Homo sapiens: one gene and its partners. The protein of the gene in region 2 purifies or fractionates together with the protein of the main gene of each other region. This does not show direct contact. Each region holds a gene or a part of one and is shown on either strand. Other genes may lie near its edges.

Region 1 (3,500 bases), on a different chromosome or scaffold from region 2:
ACTTTTTTTTTGAGATGGATCCTTGCTCTGTAGCCCAGGCTGGAGTGCAGTGGCGTGATCTCAGCTCACTGCAACCTCCGCCTCCCGGGTTCAAGCGATTCTCCTGCCTCAGCCTCCCAAGTAGCTGGGATTACAGGCACCTGCCACCACGCCTGGTTAATTTTTGTATTTTTAGTCAAGATGGGGTTTCACCATGTTGGCCAGGCTGGTCTCGAACTCCTGACCTCAAGTGATCCACCAGCCTTGGCCTCCCAAAGTGCCAGGATTACAGGTGTGAGCCCCCATACCCAGCCTCACTTTTTCTTCTTAAACAATCCTAGGAGAGAGACGCTACAGGCAGCCCCAGTGGACCATGTGCAAACTGAGACACAGACATTAGAAACTGCTCAAGGTAGGCCAGGCACAGTGGCTCACACCTGTAATTCCTGAACTTTGGGAGGCTGACGGGGGAGGATGGCTTGAGTCCAGGAGCTCGAGACCAGCCTGGGAAACACGGTGAAACCACGTCTCTACAAAAATACAAAAAAATTTTTAAGAAAAAGAAACTGTCCAAGGTTATAGAACTCTCAGGAGGCAGAGAAGCTGAGCTCAGAACCCAGGCAATCTGGCTCCAAAGTCCATGCCCTTACCCACCACACCCTGCTTTCCTGAGGCAGGAAGCCTGGAACAGTAACAGAACTGCAGCCAGTGAGGCCGAGGCCACGAGGGCAGGGGCATGAGGAGAGGCAGATGCCAGCATCAGCGGGACCCTCAGCCCCAAGGCCGCAAGAGCACATTCAGAATTCGATATTTTATACAAAGAGCCACGTGAAGCCACTGAAGAGTTTACAGCGAGGGGAGAGAGATACGGTCTTATTTACAATTTTCAAAAGAGGCCACCGTGGCTACCGGCCCCTGGAGTGCTGTTACCGGCCTTTGACAGCCTGCGGCCCCTTTATCACCAGAGCGCTTGACAGCCCCCTGTTGGGAGAGGATAGAATGTTCTGAGCTGGGACACAGGCTTTACACAATCTTGTCATCTGCTTAGCCACTTGTTAGTAGAACAGGCACAGATCCAGCAATATTCTTGTCACCACAACGCTGGGAGCGAATCCGGATTAATGGAGGGACACTGCCAGGGCCAGGGGAGACAACACGCGCAGGGTCACGGACACGGGGTCCAAGGCCAGGCACCTGCGAGTGAGGCCAGGGCTGCTTCTCCAGGTTACTTGGGCAAATTGCTCCACCTCCCTGGGTGTCGGTTTTCTCCTATAAAACGGGGTTAATAATAGCGCCTCTGTCCAGAGCTGGCGAGAGGATTATGCATGATGGAATATGAAGCTGCTCAGAGAGCCGGCTCCGGGAAGTCCTTGATGGCCATTGCTGTTGTCTGAAGGTGCTGTACCCCTAAGTGGACAGGCCTTCTCTGAGTGGGGCAAATACCTCTGACTGGGTGGTAGATGTGCATTTTCACATGCTCTGGTCCTGCTGCTCCTGCCCAGAAGCTCCGTGGGTGCAGGCCTGTGACCATCTTGCTCAGTAAGGTGACCTGTGTGCTTCATGTCTGCTGAGTGTGGGAGACAGCAAGGGGCTGAGAGAAGCTGCAGCAGGACTGGGCCTGGCATGTGGGGGACTCCTTTAGCAGACCTGTGTTCAGCTAGGAAGGTCCTACGAGCCCAGCAACTATCAGGAGGTCAACAAAATCATCCTCATCTCAAAGAGCCAGTAGTCTGGCTCCTCCACAGATTTTGTCCCCAGGAGGAGACTCCTGGGAGTACTAATGGTGCGGTGAGAGGTGGGATGTGTAGCAAAACTAGGGACACAGAGAGGCCACTGTCTCCAACACACTGCACTGCTGAGGGAGCCCAGTGCTACAGTGACAAATAAGGCTGAGGAGTACAGGAGGCAAACACATCCATTTAGGGGCCAGGTGCGGGGGCTCACGCCTGTAATCCCTAAACTTTGGAAGGCCAAGGCAGGAGGATTGCTCAAGGCCAGGAGTTCGAGACCAGCCTGGGCAACATAGCAATACCCTGTCTTTACAAAAGAAAACAAAATCCACTTGGGATAAAATTCTGCTTCAGGAAGATTCTCATCATTCAGGCCTCAGCTCAAACATCAGCCTCTAGAGGTACCACCCTATCTCACCTTCCCAGTTCCACACTGTCACATTCTCCTACGATAACCACAATCTGAAACTATCAACTTCATTCATTCATTAGCTTCCTCTCTTTGTCCACCCCTCACCCTCCCTGGTAAGCTGGTAAGCTCGTGGTAAGCTCCATAAAGGCAAGGACCATGTCTGTGTTGTTCACCACGATGCCTAACACAGAGCCTGCCTGTGCTTGATAAAGTAGGTGAAATGGATGCTGCAGCCAGGCACGGTGGCTCACGCCTGTAATCTTAGCACTTTGGGAGGCCGAGGCAGGTGGATTGCCTGAGCTCAGGAGTTCGAGACCAGCCTGGGCAACACGGTGAAACCCCGTCTCTACCAAAATTTAAAAAAAAATTAGACGGGTGTGGCAGCATGCGCCTGTAATCACAGCTACTCGGGAGGCTGAGGCAGGAGAATTGCTAGAACCCAGGAGGCGGAGGCTGCAGTGAGCCGAGATCGCCCCATTGCACTCCAGCCTGGGCAACAGAGCGAGACTCCGTCTCTAAAAAAAAAAAAAGAAAAAGAAAAAGAAAAGAGAAAAAGAGAAATGGATGCTGCAAAGGATGTCTGCATTCACGATGCCATCACTTTAGTTTCTCATTGGTACCTCCCAAGAATCCTGGGAGATCAGCTGGAGAGCAAAGAAACGGGCTCAGAAAGATGGCATGAGGTACGACAAGTAGCTCAAGGTTAGCAGATGATGGACCCGATAATCCAAGCCTGGCCTTCTGACTTGGAACCTGTATTCCTCTCACCACCCCACGATTCCCATGTCCAGCAAGCATTTCTGCAGCCCCCACCCTCTGCCTGAGCTGGACCCAGTCGGGGAATGGGGATGGGTGGGACAGGTAGAGGACAGCAATAAAGGAGACACATCCTGCCTGCAGCTCTAGCTGGAAGAGCATACCACCTAGTATCAAAGTAGGTATGTGCTCTAACTTCATACTGTTCTGTCCATAAAAAAATAAACAATTTAAAATGTATATTCTCTTAAAAAATAAAAATGCAGGCCAGGCGCGGTGGCTCACGCCTGTAATCCTACAACTCTGGGAGGCCAAGGTGGGTGGATCGCCTGAGATTGGGAGTTTGAGACTAGCCTGGCCAACATAGCGAAACCCCGCCTCTACTAAAAATACAAAAATTAGCTGGACGAACACCTGTAATCCCAGCTACTCAGGAGGCTGAGGCAGGAGAATGGCGTGAACCCAGGAGGGAGAGGTTGCAGTGAGCTGAGATCGTGCCATTGCACTCCAGCCTGGGCAACAGAGCAAAAACTCCATCTCTACATAAATAAATGTATTGCACCACTGGAGAGGATAGTCACACATGCATTTACCATTCTTGACTTATCTAAGAGAAGCTGCCA
Region 2 (3,250 bases):
AGAAACGGGATTTCACCATGTTGGCCAGGCTGGTCTCAAACTCCTGACCTCAAGGGATCCACCTGCCTCGGCCTCCCAAAGTGCTGGGATTACAGGCGTGAGCCACCGCTCCCAGCCCCAATATTTCCTCTTAAAGAGCTCAGAATCTAGTGCTGGGTGGGGGTGGGCTACTGAGGTGGGCCAGAAGAGAAGGGACAGTGCTTCAGCTCCCTCTGACCCTCACCACTCTAGGAGCACCAGAAGGTGGAGCTGCTGCGGAAGGCCGTGCAGGCCCACCGAGGCTACACCGACCGGGTAAGTGAGCCCGCTTGTGCCTACTCACTTGTCCCTTAGTGTCAGCCATCTGTCTGTCCCTCTGACTGTCCGTCCCTGCAGCCAATGGCTGCCAACCCTTTGCTAGGACCACATCTCCCCCAACCTGGGAGCACCTGGAGCCAGGCTGAATAGCCCCCAACTTTTTCTTTTTTTTTTTTTTTGAGATGGAGTCTTGCTCTGTCGCCCAGGCTGGAGTGCAGTGGTGTGATTTAGGCTCACTGCAACCTCCGCCTCCCAGGTTCAAGCAATTCTCCTGCCTCAGCCTCCCAAGTAGCTGGGATTACAGGCACCCACCACCACACCTGGCTAATTTTTCCATTTTTAGTAGAAACAGGGTTTCACCATGTTGACAGGCTGGTCTCAAACTCCTGACCTCAGGTGATCCACCCACCTCAGGCTCCCAAAGTGCTGGGATTATAGGCGTGAGCCACCGTGCCCGGCCAAATATCCCCATTTTAAAGTTGGAGAAACCCAGCCTGGGCCCAGTAACTGCCTTGGTTCCAGGTTCCAGGGCTGGCCTGGGCCCTAGATGTTGGGTCACACTCTCTCCCTGATGCTAGGTATCTCTCCCTGACGCTAGGTATACATGGTCCAGCAGACAGCCAGTTTCCTGCCCTCCAGCAGCTTGGGCTGCAGTCAGGGAGGTGGCTGTCTGGATGCGTGTCCTGGCTCTGTCTCTGAGCACCTGTGTGTCCAGGCTCTGACCGTGCTACATGCACACGTCCATTTAGAGCTCACCGCCACCCTGCGAGGGGAGTGTAGGACTCACCCCTCTTTACAGATGAAGACACTACAGTTCCAGAACCTAAGCAACCTGCCAAGGCCCTGCAGCCAGGATGGGGCTAGGTCACCCAGCTCCAGGGCCCTGCCCTACAACCCTGCACTTTCCTGCCTCCCTGGGCAAATCCCCGCCCCTCCCTGAGCCTTGGTTTCCCCATCTGTGAAACGAAGGCTCTCTCTGGCCAGAATACTCTGGTCTTGTGGTTTTGAGTGGCCAGTGCCTGCGAAGGGTGGCGCTGCCACAGGCTGAAGAGGGCAGGGATACCCCGGGGGTCCACAGCCCCTGCTCCTGACAGCTCTCCCACCCCAACAGGCCATCCGCGGGGAGGCCTTTGATCGACACCTGCTGGGCCTGAAGCTGCAGGCCATCGAGGACCTGGTGAGCATGCCCGACATCTTCATGGACACCTCCTACGCCATCGCCATGCACTTCCACCTCTCCACCAGCCAGGTGGGCCACTGCCCCAGGTGCCCCGGGGGCTGGAGGCAGAGAACCCACTGGTAGTTTGATGTGGCCTACACAGGCCCCACTGACCCATTGCCAACACAGCTGAGTTCCAGAGGAGGAGCTGGGGGCAGGGGCCTCTCTGCAGCCCAGGCAGGCTGAGAAGGGGTCAGTGCTCCTCATGGGAGAATCAGCTTCGCTGACTCACTGGTCAGGTATAAAGGAACATTTGATTCGTGCCAGCCTGTAGTGGTTGCTGGGATATAGCAGGGGACAGACCATGATCCCTGCCCACAAGGGGCCTGCAGTCTTGGCGGAAGCACAGGCAGCCTGGGAAGTGCTGGGGGCGTCAAGGTAGGGGAGCTGAGAGCTTTCATCCTGCCGTCCCCAGGTCCCTGCCAAGACAGACTGTGTCATGTTCTTCGGGCCCGTGGTCCCCGACGGCTACGGTGTCTGCTATAACCCCATGGAGGCCCACATCAACTTCTCCCTGTCGGCCTACAACAGCTGCGCGGAGACCAACGCCGCCCGCCTGGCGCATTACCTGGAGAAGGCGCTCCTGGACATGCGTGCCCTGCTGCAGAGCCACCCCCGGGCCAAGCTCTGAGCCCCTAGGACTCAGGCCTGCCAATGCCACAGCCAAGCCCACCCTGGGATGGGCCACCCACCAGGGCTCAGCTCCTTGGTTCCCTCTTCCTTGGTTCCCTCTTCCCTGGTCCCCCCAAATCTACTGAGCCACGGACCGCATCCTCCAGGGGGCCTGCAGGCCCCAGCCAAGTGCCTTCCGTGGGTCATCCCAGCACCTGCCAGGGCCCGACCTGGGGCTGAGTGCAGAGGCTGAGCAGGACGTTAGGCCCGGGCCCCTGGCACGTCCTCCACCGGTGCCTCCTCTGGGGAAGGGAACCAGCCCTCCAGAGCAGGAGACTGGCAAGAGCTCTTTGTCTCACCAGCTCAGCCCCGGCCACTCCCTGCCAACTCCATGACCAGGCCACCATCTGTACCCTGCTTCCCAAACTCCCAGGACCTGGAGACAGGATTGTCTGGGGCCGAGGGGCCAGGGTGTGAGGTTTCACCTCCGTTGCGGCTGTGCTCCTGTGGATAACATTGCTAGCGAGCCGCCTCTGGTTCCACTCAGCTTGGTTCCTGCCCCCGCCCTGCTGTATGATATTAATGTGGAAGGTCATCAATAAAGGGGAATTGTGTTGGTGAAGAGGTGTTTCAGCTGAGAGGCAGGCAGGGTGGGGGCAGGCACCTGGCCTTGCCCTCTTCAGCTTTCCCTGGGCCTCGGAGCTGGTGTCCAAGCAGCTGGTGGGCCTGAGGGCTTTGGCCCAGGAGCCAAGGTCCAGCTGTGACCTTGGGGCACTGGGCCCAGAACCATACCAGAGCCAGGGCTGCGTCCTTCACCAGCAGCTTCCCACCTACCTCTGGCTTGGGCCTTCCCAAGTCCCATGGGTTGTGGGTAGGGGCAACTCTCCCAGGGGACTGTGGGGCCCAGCAGGCCCAGGTCTGGTGGGCTGATGAATGTTGCTAATACCCAGGGGCCCAGGGTGTCATTCTACTTCCCCCAACTGAGCCCAGCAAAAGTAGGAGTACAGCAGCAGGCTCAGCTTGCCCCAGGCCCAGCCGCTGCCAGGACAGACACCTTCGGGGGTGGGCAGGTGCGATCAGAGCAGAACCACATACCTGCCCATAGCCCCGTGTCCATGGCTG
Region 3 (3,500 bases), on a different chromosome or scaffold from region 2:
GCACTGTCAGTTTTTGTATTAAAGTGTTTCAGTAGAGCGTGGCCGAATATTTGACATGATGAATCTGAATGAAATGATCAGAGCTATGTGAGGAATATGGTTCTACGCTGGATGTTTTGTGGACAAAACAGAAAAAAAATCCCAGCCTAGAAGCATTATTGAAATTGCATCGAGGAAAAACTATAATCTGGGGGTCATACTGTCACTCTGAGAGAACTACTATGTTCTGTCTCGCTTTCTCATCAGAGGAAATCCTTGTACCAGTACCACTCAAATTCTCTGTTCTCCGACTCCTGGCTTCAAGCGATTCTGCCTCAGCATCCCAAGTAGCTGGGATTACAGGCACATGCCACCACACCCAGCAAATTCTCCATTCTATACAACTTTTTTTTTTTTTTTTTTTTTTTGAGACAGAGTCTCGCTCTGTTGCCCAGGCTGGAGTGCAGTGGTGTGATCTCGGCTCACTGCAACCACCGCCTCCCAGGTTCTCCTGCCTCAGTCTCCCAAGTAGCTTGGATTACAGGCATGTGCCACCACACCTGGCTGATTTTGTATATTTAGTAGAGATGGGGTCTCACCATGTTGGTCAGGCTGGTCTTGAACTCCTGACCTCAGGTGATCCGCCCACCTTGGCCTCTCAAAGTGCTGGGATTACAGGCATGAGCCACGGTGCCCGGCCTTTTTTTTTTTTTTTTTTTTTTGTATTTTTAGTAGAAACGGGATTTCACTATGTTGGCCAGGCTGGTCTCAAACTCCTGACCTCAAGTGATCCGCCTGCGTCAGCCTCCCAAAGTGCTAGGATTACAGGCATGAGCCACCATGCCTGGCCCTATACAACTTTTCAAATTCTCTCTCTCTTTTTTTTTTTTTTTTTGAGATGGAGTCTCACTGTGTCGCCCAGGCTAGAATGCAGTGGTGTTATCTTAGCTCACTGCAACCTCTGCCTCCTGGGTTGGAGCAATTCTCCTGCCTCAGCCTCCTGAGTAGCTGGGATTACAGGTGTGCACCACCATGCCTGCTTAATTTTTGTATTTTTAGTAGAGACAGGGTTTCGCCATGTTGGCCAGGCTGGTCTTGAACTCCTGACCTCAGGTGATCCACCCACCTCGGCCTCTCAGAGTGCTGAGATTATAGGTGGGAGCCACTGCACCTGGCCAATTCTCTCTTATTTATTTATTTATTTTTTTTGAGACAGAGTCTCACTCTGTCACCCAGGCTGGAATGCAGTGGGCATGATCTCGGCTCACTGCAACCTCCGCCTCCTAGGTTCAAGCGATTTTCCTGCCTCAGGCTCCCAAATAGCTGGGACTACTGGCTGGCGCCACCACGTTCAGCTGATTTTTGTATTTTTAGTAGAGTCAGGGCTTTGCCATGTTGGCCAGGCTGGTCTCGAACTCCTGACTTAAGGTGATCTGACCGCCTTGGCCTCCCAAAGTGCTGAGATTGTAGGCATGATCCACTGCACTGGCCTCTCAAATTTTCTTTATTTCCTTTGATTTAATTCCTGGGCGAGGATCCTCTGCCTTGCACGTGTGGTTTTGTGCTGCATTGGCTTTGGAATCAGTAACCAATCCCTGTCCTCGTACTCCTTGCCGACTCAGGAAAAATGGAAATTAACAAGAGCTATAAAGTAATACAGAAAGGGACAGTGCTCCCATCTATGATTAAGTGCACGCAACTAATTCATACTTAAGGTTTTTTTGTCTCCTTCCCTTGCTCTATTTAAATTGCTGATTCTCTCACACCTGATGACTCTTCTCTCAAATGCCCATCCTTGATATTTCCTCGAAGTTTTGTGCACCGAGGGCGGCCTGAGCCTCTGGATCTTCACTTGGGCATGTTCCTGCCCACCTTGCTTCACCAGGCAACTGCGGAGCAGCAGGAGCGCTTCTTCATGCCCGCCTGGAACTTGGAGATCATTGGCACTTATGCCCAGACAGAGATGGGTCATGGTATGGAGTATTCAGTCTACCTTCTGGGTTGGGCGGGCCCCTGTGAGCTTACCATGTGTGGAGTGCCCACCATGTGCCATCGATGGTGTGTCGATGTTCTATGGTCTGTTTAAATGAGCTCTTTCTGCAGAGTCCAGGTTTTGGTATAAACACTGCTTTGGTGAGTGGGAATTAAAGACCATGATACTGATAAAATGATTGTCCTTTTTATACCATAGTTCCCCTTCAGAGGGTCAAGAATTGCAAATCAGGCCTTATTTACCAAGTGGTTTTTCAATGTTACTGAGGTTGTATAGAATCTGTGTGCATATACAACCCGAAGCTGTTTTTTTCTTCATTACTATCTGATTACCTTTACTACTGATACCTTAATGAGTACAAATTCCAGAAGAAATACAAATAATAGTTTGTGTACTCTTGGATTTGCTTGAGGGAAATGAGTAGCTTATAACTGACGTGTGTGACATTTTGGAGTTATTTGTACTTTGAGTCAATCAGTAGTTCTGCAAGTGACTTGGCTGGAGAGTGAAAAAACCAAGATAAGCCGAACTTGCAGGCATTTGGTTTCAGACTCTGTATCTCCACCTTTCATTGATCTTTCCACCCCCCACCTGCTTTCTTCATGCACCTGGGTGGGCTGGAGGTGGCCGCTGTTCCTCTTTGTATCTTCTCTGAATTGGGTCCGTGTTTGCCATTCATTTGCTTATGGCTTCTCTTTTTCTGCTCTGACGTTTCAGAAAAACTGGTCTAGTGTGTATTTGCCACTTGCTCCTTATTTCTATACAGCTGCTGCTTTTTATTTGGTGTTGAATAGTATTTTACAGGATTTTCATGAGACTCCAAGTGGAATACTATTTGTTTCAGTTGTGCTTTTGAAAACATTTTGTCCTTATCTGTTCTGTTTAATGTTATCTGCTTTTCTGTAAAAGCTGCTTCTTTGATGAAAGATGTCTGTGTCTGATTTGTTGACTCCCACTCGGGAAAGTTGTGGATTGCACATAAGTTGGTTATTCAACTTGGAAGCTTCTAAATGTTTCAAAGTGTGTTTAATGAGGTCTAAGCGTTATGAAAGCAGATTGGTAAAAGGTTCCCAACGTTTGCTTTAGTACAGTATTTTTGTAGAGACTGCCACCTAGAACATTTTTCTATGACTCTTTTCAAATAATTTTGATATATTTGTGTTAAGATTTAAAACATAAGATCCTGTCTATCCCAGTACACATAAGAAACTGGAAACTCTTCCTTGCCACATTAATGAACCAGCAGGACTAAGTTAGGCCTGCCATTGGAAATCTCTAGGGTCAACTGAGACCTTATTATTGGACCTTTAGGAATTTTTAAAAGTCACATTTCAGGTCATTTCCCCAATAACAGTTATACTTTTATACTTTTTTTTTTTTTTTTTTTGAGACGGAGTCGTGCTCTGTCGCCCAGGCTGGAGTGCAGTGGCGCGATCTCAGCTCACTGCAAGCTCCACCTTCCGGGTTCACGCCATTCTCCTGCCTCAGCCTCCCGAGTAGCTGGGACTACAGGCACCCACCACCATGC
Region 4 (3,500 bases), on a different chromosome or scaffold from region 2:
TACAGAGGTTACAAATAAACACAGGTCACAATATCATGGCTTCTATCTTACTGCATAAGAATAATTTTATCAAACCCCAGCCAGGTGTGGTGGCTCACGCCTGTAATCCCGGCACTTTGGGAGGCTGAGGTGGGCGGATCACAAGGTCAGGAGATCAAGACCATCCTGGCTAACATGGTGAAACCACGTCTCTACTAAAAATAGAAAAAATTAGCCAGGCATGGTGGCGGGCACCTGTAGTCCCAGCTACTCAGGAGGCTGTGGCAGGAGAATGGCGTGAACCTGGGAGGCGGAGCTTGCAGTGAGCCGAGATCACACCACTGCACCACTGCACTCCAGCCTGGACAACAGAGCGAGACTCCGTCTCAAAAAAAAAAAAAAAAAAAAGAATAATTTTATCAAACCCCAATGTTAATAGAATTTCTTCCTCCCCTCCACCCAACACAGTCTTGCTCTTTTGCCCAGGCTGGAGTGCAATGCGTGATCTTGGCTCACTGCAACCTCTGCCTTCCGGGTTCAAGAGATTCTCCTGTCTCAGCCTCCCAAGTAGCTGGGATTACAGGCGCGGGCCACCATGCCCAGCTGATTTTTGTATTTTTATTTATTTTATTTATTTATTTTTTTGAGACAGAGTCTCGCTCTGTCGCCCAGGCTGGAGTGCAAGGGCTCGATCTTGGCTCACTGCAACCTCCGCCTCCTGGGTTCAAGCGATTCTCCTGCTTCAGCCCCACGAGTAGCTGGGATTACAGGCACGTGCACCACCATGCCCGGCTAATTTTTGTATTTTTAGTAGAGACGGGGTTTCACCATGTTGGTCAGGCTGGTCTTGAACTCCTGACCTCGTGATCTGCCCGCCTTGGCCTCCCAAAGTGCCAGGATTACAGGCGTGAGTCACTGTGCCGGGCCCTGATTTTTGTATTTTTAGTAGAGATGGGGTTTCACCATGTTGGCCAGGCTGGTCTCGAACTTATGACCCCATGATCTACCTGCCTCGGCCTCTCAAAGTGCTGGGATTACAGGCATGAGCCACCGTGCCCGGCCAGAATTTCTTTTTTAATACAACAATTTAAAATTTAAACACTCTATTATGGAAAAACATTATTCAAAATACTTTCTGAAACTAGGAGATGAATCCAACTAAATTTTAATATAATTTCATTATTGAATTAATACAATTAAATATAAAAGCTTAATATTGATTTAAAAATTAATAAAAATAATTTAAATTTAATGATTAAATTTGTTAATAAATTGTAATATAATTAAAAACTACAGGGAGAAGAGTTAGGACACTAGAAGGATGTAAATGCATTGAAGAATAAATACAAAATCCAGAAAAAGAAAAGATTTACTTGAGAGAGAGAGACATACATGTAATCTAACATATAACAGAAATTAAAATCTTGTCTATACAAAAGCCTAAGTACTACTGAACAGTACAGAATGATTTAAGTAAAAATTATGGCTTATTTACAATAAAACTTTAAGGTAACCACTTAAAATGCTTTTGAAAAATAGCATCATAAGTAACTTTACAATTATAATGGTAAATTAAAATAAGCACAATATAAACTATATAAAAGTAGAATAATAATTTGAGAAAAAAGTGTTTATATATATAAAATGATTAGGAAGAAATACATTAAAATATTACTAGTATTTTGAGTTTGGATTATGGATTATTTTTGTCTTTATACTTTTCAAATGTACTTTCTTGATAATCAGAAAAAATATTTAAAGACACATTTTGCCTAATGATATTACTAAATAACAATTCAAAAGATTCCACTTTCCAAGGATAAAATAAAAATAAGTAATATCCCATATTGCCAAAAATCACTATAAAAAAGAGCTCTCCTATGAAAGGATGAAAACACAATCCTATTACTTTCACAAGGTATTCTCTACATGCATTATTCAAAAACTACATCTTATGACATGTTTCTAAAAAAAAATTCATCAAGTACGGCTGTTATTTTAAATTTATAAGAAAGAATATTATTTTTTTGTGATAACTTACTTTCATTCATATTGATGAACTCCTGGTTGACCTCTTCATCTCCAGTCTTCTTGTTCTTTGACTTTTTAATGACATGAGCTCGGTCATGGATATGATGACCAATAGCCATTTTTTCTAGTCCACTGTCAGAATCTCTCATTGCTTTCCTGGTTTCCTTTATCTGTAAAAATAAAGAAATTTTATTATTATTTAAATATATATAGAATGTATATCTCAGGGCCAGCTTACCTACAGAGATATGGCCATAGATCTATTGCTCTAAAAATAATGTGTGCTCAGTTCCACTATTAACTTGTGGTAAAACTGTGGTAATAAGTCTCTGATATTTCCTGAACTCCTTAAAATGAAAATGTCTACAACAAACAGAACCCATACAATTTAACCTTTTTCCAAATTGTAATCAAATATTAAAACAAAAGTAGCAATTATAGTTTAATGCCTTCAAGACTGTCTTAGATAATGTAATAGAAGGAAGTTTATGGTGGGATTCCTACAAATAAGGGCAACTAATTATTCATCAGTCATATTGATTGGCTTGAATCTCATGATTCCCGACTATCAACTCTATGGAAGTATTATAAGAATATTTCTGATAGCAACTAACATGATTTACTGTGGGACATCTACAATTATATTCTGTTTACATTTAAGTTTGTCACTTTTAGAAAGTTAAAATTAAAATGTCTGAGATTAATTAGCAGAACTATGGCAAAAGCATCATTAAAAGGTTCATCTTTATATGTAAGAACTAAAAAATGTACTACTTCACATTCATTAGATTGGTAAACCTAAATTTTTACTATAAGTACTAACAAGGAAGTAGAGAAATGGAAACTCACAAGCCACAGTTTTGGAAGCCAACAATTTCAATCACTGGGATAGTAGCTTGGAAACGCTAGGTAAAGAGGAAAGTACACATACCCTACAACTCAGCAATACCACTCCTAGACTCTGTATAAGGAGCCATGTATAAAGATGAATTAGTGAAAGATTAGACTCACCTACATATCTATTGACAGAAAATGATTTAAAAATCATGGTACATTCATATTTTGGATATTACATAGAAGTTAAAGAAACCAGGGCCACATGTATCAACTTGAATAAATCTCAGAAGCGTATTAATCATAATATATTCATATTTTGGATACTACATAGAAGTTAAAGAAACCAGGGCCACATGTATCAAGCTGAATAAATCTCAGAAGCATATTACTCAGCAAAGACAAGTTGCAGAGGACATATGCAATATGATACCCTTTATGTAATGTTGGGAAATCTGGAAAATAATCCATTTTTTTAATGACAGAAACGTGAAGTAATAAAATTGTAAAAACATGCGTGAAAATGATAAACTCCAGATACAGGAAAATGGTAATCTCTGAGAAGGGGAGAAAGGGAAAATAGACCTCAGAGGAATGTATTAGAAGGTTTAACTGCCTCTGTACATTTTCGCTTAAAAAGAAAACAAAGCAAGAGA

What was found. The genes of interacting proteins can lie anywhere in the genome.
Region 1: the proteins of CRAT (region 2) and SPATA2 purify together in Homo sapiens (affinity purification with mass spectrometry; one large-scale study listed by BioGRID and IntAct). This does not show direct contact.
Region 3: the proteins of CRAT (region 2) and ACOX1 fractionate together in Homo sapiens (co-fractionation; one large-scale study listed by BioGRID). This does not show direct contact.
Region 4: the proteins of CRAT (region 2) and MLF1 purify together in Homo sapiens (affinity purification with a luminescence readout; one large-scale study listed by IntAct). This does not show direct contact.

Annotation. Positions count from the first base shown.
Region 1 is NC_000020.11:49,909,030-49,912,529, forward strand, and holds part of SPATA2 (spermatogenesis-associated protein 2), read right to left. Parts: exon of another isoform or gene 1,423-3,500; intron 1-1,422.
Region 2 is NC_000009.12:129,094,294-129,097,543, reverse strand, and holds the end of CRAT (carnitine O-acetyltransferase), read left to right. Parts: intron 1-231; coding exon 232-294; intron 295-1,408; coding exon 1,409-1,546; intron 1,547-1,931; coding exon 1,932-2,147; 3' UTR 2,148-2,750; downstream 2,751-3,250. UniProt on the Homo sapiens protein: Catalyzes the reversible transfer of acyl groups from carnitine to coenzyme A (CoA) and regulates the acyl-CoA/CoA ratio. Also plays a crucial role in the transport of fatty acids for beta-oxidation.
Region 3 is NC_000017.11:75,958,667-75,962,166, reverse strand, and holds part of ACOX1 (peroxisomal acyl-coenzyme A oxidase 1), read left to right. Parts: intron 1-1,791; coding exon 1,792-1,952; intron 1,953-3,500. UniProt on the Homo sapiens protein: Involved in the initial and rate-limiting step of peroxisomal beta-oxidation of straight-chain saturated and unsaturated very-long-chain fatty acids.
Region 4 is NC_000003.12:158,598,694-158,602,193, reverse strand, and holds part of MLF1 (myeloid leukemia factor 1), read right to left. Parts: intron 2,181-3,500; coding exon 2,021-2,180; intron 1-2,020. UniProt on the Homo sapiens protein: Involved in lineage commitment of primary hemopoietic progenitors by restricting erythroid formation and enhancing myeloid formation.